2 linked regions of the Homo sapiens genome follow. The protein of the gene in region 2 purifies or fractionates together with the protein of the main gene of each other region. This does not show direct contact. Each region holds a gene or a part of one and is shown on either strand. Other genes may lie near its edges. The genes, in order: CKAP5 and DHX29.

Region 1 (3,824 bases), on a different chromosome or scaffold from region 2:
AAAATAACTCACTCCCAAATGATCTTCAAATACTCCACATTTGATGCCTATGCTTGGCCAGATTCAGCTGAACACCAGTATATGGGACAAGTAAGAAACAACATGTTTAACAGTTAATGGAATCATAACACTAACTTGTGCTTTCTTTCAAGAAGAGGAACACAGGAGAATTTGGATTCAGTTTCCAAGCTGCAAAGGCTCTGCTCCTCAAAAGATCATAACCTCTATAGTCTGAAAGTCAAGTAGTCACTGTACATAATTTGCAGGAAAAGAATCTTGCCTAGGTATAAAATATTCCCCCAACTTCAAAGAGAGTCTGTACCTTAAGTAGTGCAGCACAAAAGGGCTTTAGCAAGCTCTTTGGCAGGGTAGAAGCAGTGCAGTGGCGGAAACTTCTTGCAATAAAAAGAGATGTCTGCTGCTTGATGGTTGGATTTTTATTATCCATTACTGCTAAAACATCCTCACTGATGTTCTGTAGTGTGGTCTTTAGAAAGAAAATGTGGTTAATGAGCTTTTTTCAATTGTAAAGAACAATCAAAATATTATATTTACAAACTTTACTTCAGATAAAACTACAAACTCATGCTGTCAACTTACAGTAAGGAAGATTGCATCAATTGCCTCCTGCAGGGCTTGTACCACTTGAGGTTTCTTCTCTTTGAATTTCTCCAAGATGGTTGGCACAACCTGTAAAAGTGAATGGCTAGCACATTATTCAGCAACAAAGAGGAATGATATATTGATATATCCTAGAACATGGCTGAACCTTAAAAATAGTATGCTAAGTTAAAAAAAAAGCCAGTCACAGGCTGGGCACAGTGACTCATGCCTGTAATCCCAGCACTTTGGGAGGCTGAGGCAGGTGGGTTGCTTGAGGCAAGGAGTTCAAGACCAGCCTGGGCAACAGAGTGAGATCTTGTCTCTACTAAAACAAACAAAAAAAAATTAGCCAGGTGTGGTGGTATGTGCCTATGATCCCAGCTACTTGGGAGGCTGAGGTGGGAGGATTACTTGAACCCAGGAGGTCAAAGCTGCAGTGAGCTACGACTGCATCACTGTATTGTAGCCTGGGCAACACAGCAAGACCCTGTCTTCCAAAAAAAAAAAAAAAGCAGTCACAAAGACCATGTATTGTATGACTCCATTTACATGAAATGTTAAATCCAGAGACAAAAAAGTAGATTAGTGGTTGCTAGAGTCAAGGGCAGGGAGCAGCATGGGGAGAGACTGTTAATGGGCAAGGGGTTTCTTTTTGGGGTGATGAAGATGTTCTGGAATTAGATAGTGCTGATGGTTATGTAACATTGTGAATATTCTAAAATCACTTTAAGAGGGTAAATTTTATAGTATGCAAGTTTTATCTCAATAAAACTTACTTTCTAAAAAACCACCTTGTCTCCACCAAAACAAACCAATAAAGCAAACATTTAAGTGGAATAAAAAGTCATTTCCTTTCATGAAGGACATCGTATCTTATGCCGGAACAATGAAGAATTCTCATTCTCTCCCACTATGGCAGTGCTTCTCAACCTATTTGCCGCCTCTGCTCTGTCACCCACGTGGGAGTGCAGTGGGATGAACATGGCTCACTGAAGCCTCGGCCTCCTGGGCTCAAGTAATCCTCTCATCTCAGCCTCCCGAGTAGGTAGGCCTCAGGTATATGTCACCACACCTGCTATTTTTTTTTTTAATTCTTAATTTCTTGACCATTTCCCTGTAAATATAATTTTTTATTTTATTTTTTGTCGAGACGGGGGTTTCTCCATGTTGCCCAGGCTGGGGAAGAAAATTTCTAAGGTCCAAAGGACACAGCAAAGCTCAATGGCATCCAAAAACAAGAAATAATTGTTTTCAAGATTTCACAGAAGTGGTTATAGACTACTTGGTATAGTTCAAGGACTATGGTTCCCATGGAAAAATACAAGACTTTTTAATACTAGTTATAAACTTGAAAATCAAGATATTTTAATGTCTATAAAGCTAACATTCACTTTTATAAATATTGCCAAAAAGTTTGTAAACATTTAAAGAAAATAAAGCCAAGTCAGTAACATGCTTGATACTAAACACCGCATATATTACAGTATTAAGGTGGGGGAGACCCCAAACTACAGAGCAATAGAGACATTCTTTAACCAGGACAACAAACTGAAACAAAGCCAGAATCAGAACTCAAACTGGAAAGCCAGTTAATTATCCAACCATAATTTGGTAAATTAAAATGAATTTTAGGCCGGGTGTGGTGGCTCAAGCCTGTAATCCCAGCACTTTGGGAGGCTGAGGCAGGCAGATAGCTTGAGCTCAGGATTTCGAGACCAGCCTGGGCAAGGTGGCAAAACCCCATCTCTACCAAAAATACAAAAAGTACTCAAGCATGGTGTGGGGTGTGCCTGAAGTCCCAGCTACTCAGGAGACTGAGGTGGGAGGATCACCTGCGCCTAGGAGGTTAAGGCTGCAGTGAACTGAGATGGTGCCACTGCACTCCAGCCTGGGTGACAAAGTGAGACCCTGTCTCAAAAAAAAAAAACTAAAATTATTCTCTGAACTGATATTTAAGTGGTGTAGGAAAAAATTGTTTTTTATCTTGAAAAATTATTCCCAATATAAAAGTGTAAAATATCCTAAGTAATATAAAATTGATCAAAATGGCATATACACATCGATATTATATAATATTGATTGCTATAAAAATAGATTTTAATTTTATTTCAATTTATGATGTATATGTCTAAGGGTTTTACAGACCCTTATTTTTATTTCCCTAGTAATAAGCCAGTCATGATTTATTTTTATTTGGTAGTGTCTTCTTTTTCTTCAGTTAAGTTCTCTGAGATTATTTTTAATGCTATGAGTAAGCAAGCTCCAAATACCATAGCTCATGTGAGGCTAGGTATTAGCTTCACAATATAAAATGGACACATGACTAGGGACTATTAGGAAACTCCTAAGTCAGTCTAGGGAATCAAATGATGAAGGGGCTAGCAAGCTAAACTCTAAAGATCAATAAGGTCAATTTTTAGGATGCTGAGCCATTCTTAGTAATGCAGACCGGATTTAGAGGCCAAAGGACAGATGCCACAGTTAAAGAAAACATCTTAATTAAAATTATTACCAAATTTGATTGGAAACAAACTTATACAAATAGTAAGTCAACAAATGTCTCCAGTCAGATTTTCTTTGAATAAGTAAAACGGAGATAACCTATATAAAATATATAACATTGTAACCTATATAAAATGTCTCAAATATGTAAGTAAATTATATATTAAAATAGGAAAACAATGTAAAACACATTTTATATATTAACCTCACAGTTTTACATTTATAGTTTTACATTGCCTTTCCGACTCTCATTTTCATTCTGGTCCTGGTCGTTACAAGTTTTGTTTCATCTTGTTATGATGTGTATAATGTTGTAAGAACAAAGCAAGATACTAGTAAGTAAATAAGTAATAAGCAAATAAATAAACTCAACTAAGTACTTTAGGCCTAGTGCCTGACTTTCTACATAAGGCCTATAAATTTTGTTACAACTGACATCTACTGAAATTTCTAAGATATATCTATGCTGAATATTAACAAAACAGAGAGAAATTTACTTTGTACAGTATATACACATCTATGCCAAGGAGTTGTTTTAAAGCAAACAGCAAACTAGGCCTACCATTTTTGATAAATTTTGTTGATCTGTATCTAAAAAGGAGTGTTACTTACATGTCCTGCATATTGTCCAAATTTCTTCCTTAGCCCAACAGCCAGGCCAGTAAGACATTTTGCTGCCAAAGCCACCAACATGACATTGGTGTCCTTTCCAACAACCT
Region 2 (3,824 bases):
CAGAAATTTATTTCTCATAGTTCTGGAGGTTGGGAAGTCCAAGATTAGGGTACCAGCAAGGGAGGTTTCATTCTGAGGCCTCTTCTCTTGGCATGTAGGTGGCCATCATCTTGCTATATGTTCACATGGCTTTTTTCTCTGTGCTTACTCAGAGAAACTGAGCTCTCTTGGGTATCTCATTTTATAAGGACACTAATCCTGTTGGATCAGGGCCCCATCCCTGTGATCTCATTTAACCTTATGTACTTCCTTAGAGCCCTTATCTCCAAATATAGCCACACTGGGGGTAAGGGTCTCAACATACTAATTTTTTGAGGACACAAACATTCAGTTCGTAACATCTAGCTTCTGCATTCAATCTGCCGTAACATTACACATCATGTAGCCAACTGGACAACCTCACTGCATAATCATGAGAAAATGAGCGTGAAAAATGGCAAAAACATCTCAGAATTATTATGAAAAGTTTTCACTTCATGGAGCCCTTGGCAAACAAGTCTCAGGTTCCTTAGGACCTCCTGAGCACACTTTGAGAAACACTGCTGTATAAGAATGATCCCAGGCCAGGCGTGGTGGCTCACGCCTGTAATCCCAACACTTTGGGAGGCCAAGGCAGGTGGATCACCTGAGGTCAGGAGTTCAAGACCAGCCTGACCAACATGGAGAAACCCCATCTCTACTAAAAATACAAAATTAGCCAGGCGTGGTGGTGCATGCCTGTAATCCCAGCTACTCGGGAGGCTGAGGCAGGAGAATCGCTTGAACTCAGAAGGCGGAGGTTGCAGTGAGCCGAGATTTCGCCATTGCACTCCAGCCTGGGCAACAAGAGTGAAACTCCATCTCAAAAAAAAAAAAAAAAAAAAAAACAAGAATGATTCCAGAATCATAAATCTAGTTGCATGGTTTTTATACACCTTAAAATAAGAAGTATTTTTTCTACTTTGAGACATTTAAACATTAAATGTTCTTATGATTTTAAAGTCAAAGACTTTGCTCTCTGCTGGGTTACATTAGGTTCTTCATTTTAAGATGGTAGCTAATATAATTAGATATTTTAAAAGAACAAAAGTTTTTGAGAATAACTACTTGAAATTAACTTGTACATCTGGGCAGTCTGAAAGAGAAACATTTGTGGTTCTCTGTCAATTACTGCTATGCTATAGTTATATCGGAGGTACCCAAAGCTACATGGCATATGTAAAAAGATAATAACAAGTCTGGTATAGTATTGTTAGTTTCCTTATCGTCTAGTCTCAAACTTTACCTTAATTCTAGTAATCTCTCCTATAAATTCATGTCAATGGTCATAAAGGAGAGTATATATTTAGTAGTCTTTAACTATTTCTGGGGAGTCTTATCAATTATAGTAAGCTTGTGCACAAATTTAGCATGCAGTTTTAGAGGTCCCCAAACACATCAAGAGGCCCCAGCTATAACCCTTTTAAAAAGTTACAGATAGATGAGCAGTACATTACCAAGACTACATGGAGAAACAGTTCAAAGTTCATATGCTACTGACAAGAGTAAGACTGTAAATTCCTTTAAAAATGCCAGCCGGGGCAACATGGTGAAACCCCATCTCTACAAAAAATACAAAATATTAGCTAGGTGTGGTGGCTTGTGCCTGTAATCCCAGCTACTTGGGAGGCTGAGATGGGAGGATTGCTTGAGCCTGGGAGGCAGAGATTGTAGTGAGCCACTGGGCGACAGAGTGACCCTATCAAAAAAAAAAAAAAAAAAAACTGGTTGGTTTTTAATTTACCCAGTTGAAAAGATTAAAGTAAAATTCTCATTTGTCTCCTCCAAACATTTCACCTAAGAGTTTCAACTGTATCACTTCCTTGAAGTTGGCTTATACTGCAAACTTCCAGAGGGTAAACAAAAGAGCTGAGTTTCTGAAAAATGATCAGAGAAATCAAGGAATCCTGCTCAACATTCACTGGGCCACGTTCACTTTTGCCAAGTAAAGTGCATAAGATTTATGACAGCTACTTTCCTTATTGCCTGGAGACTTTTACAATTTTTGGTTTTGTGTTTAAGATGGTGGAAGTTACTGGAAATCTGACTGGAAGTAAGGATGTTAGTATGCAATATCTCCAAGGCAAAGTATTATGAATTCCAAATTTATAAATGAAAGGTCATGGAACGATGCAACATATATAGCTGGCTCTCAAAAATATTTATTACATTAAAGTTGAAGCACAGACAAACTGATTTCCTCAAAATGACTCAGCTAATTAAAAAAAAAAAATCAACCAGAATCAGTTTCTTATTGCCCAATAATCTTTTCTTTTGCTACATATTCTTTTTATACTGTATTTTAAAGGAAAAAGCAATGCTAATGACCCACTATGACTAAGACATTGACTTTGAGTTGTTAGCACTCTGATTCCCTTCTGATCGACAGTGTGTACATCTGCAGAATGGTTAATCAGGCAAGGGACCCAAACAGGGACTCTGGTGGTAAACAGACCCAGTGCCTGTCCTCATGGAGCTTATATTCTGGAACAGTAATATAATTAGTAAGCAACTAATACTCAGATGAGTAATAAAGGGGAAGTGCAGAGTGCCAAGAAAATAGATGAGGGTGAATTGATGTAGTCTGAGCAATTAAGGCCTGTGAGGAAGTACACACTGCCAGGGCCGCCTGACTAATTATTTTGAAATGTAAACCAGCTAAAGTTTCTCCTCTACTTAATACCAACACCGGCCCCCACTTCCCATTGAACTTGCTCTGGCTCCTTCCCAGACTTCCAGCCACATTTTAACTTTTTCTTTCTTCGCTCCAGCCACACAGCACTATCTTCTTACAACATGTCAAACTTGTTTCCACCTTAGGGTTTTTAGGCTTGTTTTTCCCTCTGCCACAAATACTCTGCAGATCATCTCAGTTTAAATGTTTTCTAAGGGAAGCTATTCCTATTTCAAACCAAAATAGACCCTCCATTCTCCATTTAATGTTTACCAAGTCACTATTTTCTGTTCCTCATAGCACTTTTTCTATTTTAGTGACCCTAAAAAAAAATTTATAATGGCTTTCATAAATTTATGACATCCATTCCCAATTCTTATTCCCCTCTTAAAATTTTAAGCCTCAACTAGGTTCAAGGATTTTCAGAAACACAAGCCTCTTGGTTGGAAGAGAAAACTTAAATTACTGAACCTCTTATTTTGGTCTCAGTCATAACATGATAAAGCAGCTTAATTATACTTAGGCTAAGGAAGTGGCACTTCTAAAGCACAGGAATGGAAAGAAGAAAGAAAAGAAAAGAAAGGCAAAGAGAAGGACAGTAAAAGAAAGATGGGGAAAGGTCTTGCTATTTCTAGAACACTCCAGGCTTGCATCTCAAGGCCTTTCTGTTCCCTCTCCCCAGGAGACTCTTTACCCAGTCATCTGTGTAACTACTTTACCTGCCTCCTTTGCTTGCTCAAATGTCACTTTTTTTTTTTTTTTTTTTTTTGAGACCGAGTCTTGCTGTCACCCAGGCTGGAGTGCAGTGGCACAATCTCAGCTCACTGCAAGCTCCGCCTCCCGGGTTCACGCCATTCTCCTGCCTCAGCCTCTCCGAGTAGCTGGGACTACAGGCGCTCGCCACTATGCCCAGCTAATTTTTTATATTTTTAGTAGAGACGGGGTTTCACCGTGGTCTCAATCTCCTGACCTCGTGATCCGCCTGCCTCGGCCTCCCAAAGTGCTGGGATTACAAGCGTGAGCCACTGCGCCTAGCCACCTTCTTATATGATGCCTTCCTTCCCTGACCATCCTATTTAATACTGAACCTCTCCCCACCCTCCTCCCTATTCGGCCTCTTCAGAAATTCTTT

What was found.
Region 1: the proteins of DHX29 (region 2) and CKAP5 fractionate together in Homo sapiens (co-fractionation; one large-scale study listed by BioGRID). This does not show direct contact.

Annotation. Positions count from the first base shown.
Region 1 is NC_000011.10:46,797,483-46,801,306, forward strand, and holds part of CKAP5 (cytoskeleton-associated protein 5), read right to left. Parts: intron 3,823-3,824; coding exon 3,718-3,822; intron 691-3,717; coding exon 601-690; intron 488-600; coding exon 323-487; intron 1-322. UniProt on the Homo sapiens protein: Binds to the plus end of microtubules and regulates microtubule dynamics and microtubule organization. Acts as a processive microtubule polymerase. Promotes cytoplasmic microtubule nucleation and elongation. Plays a major role in organizing spindle poles.
Region 2 is NC_000005.10:55,300,871-55,304,694, forward strand, and holds part of DHX29 (ATP-dependent RNA helicase DHX29), read right to left. Parts: intron 1-3,824. UniProt on the Homo sapiens protein: ATP-binding RNA helicase involved in translation initiation. Part of the 43S pre-initiation complex that is required for efficient initiation on mRNAs of higher eukaryotes with structured 5'-UTRs by promoting efficient NTPase-dependent 48S complex formation.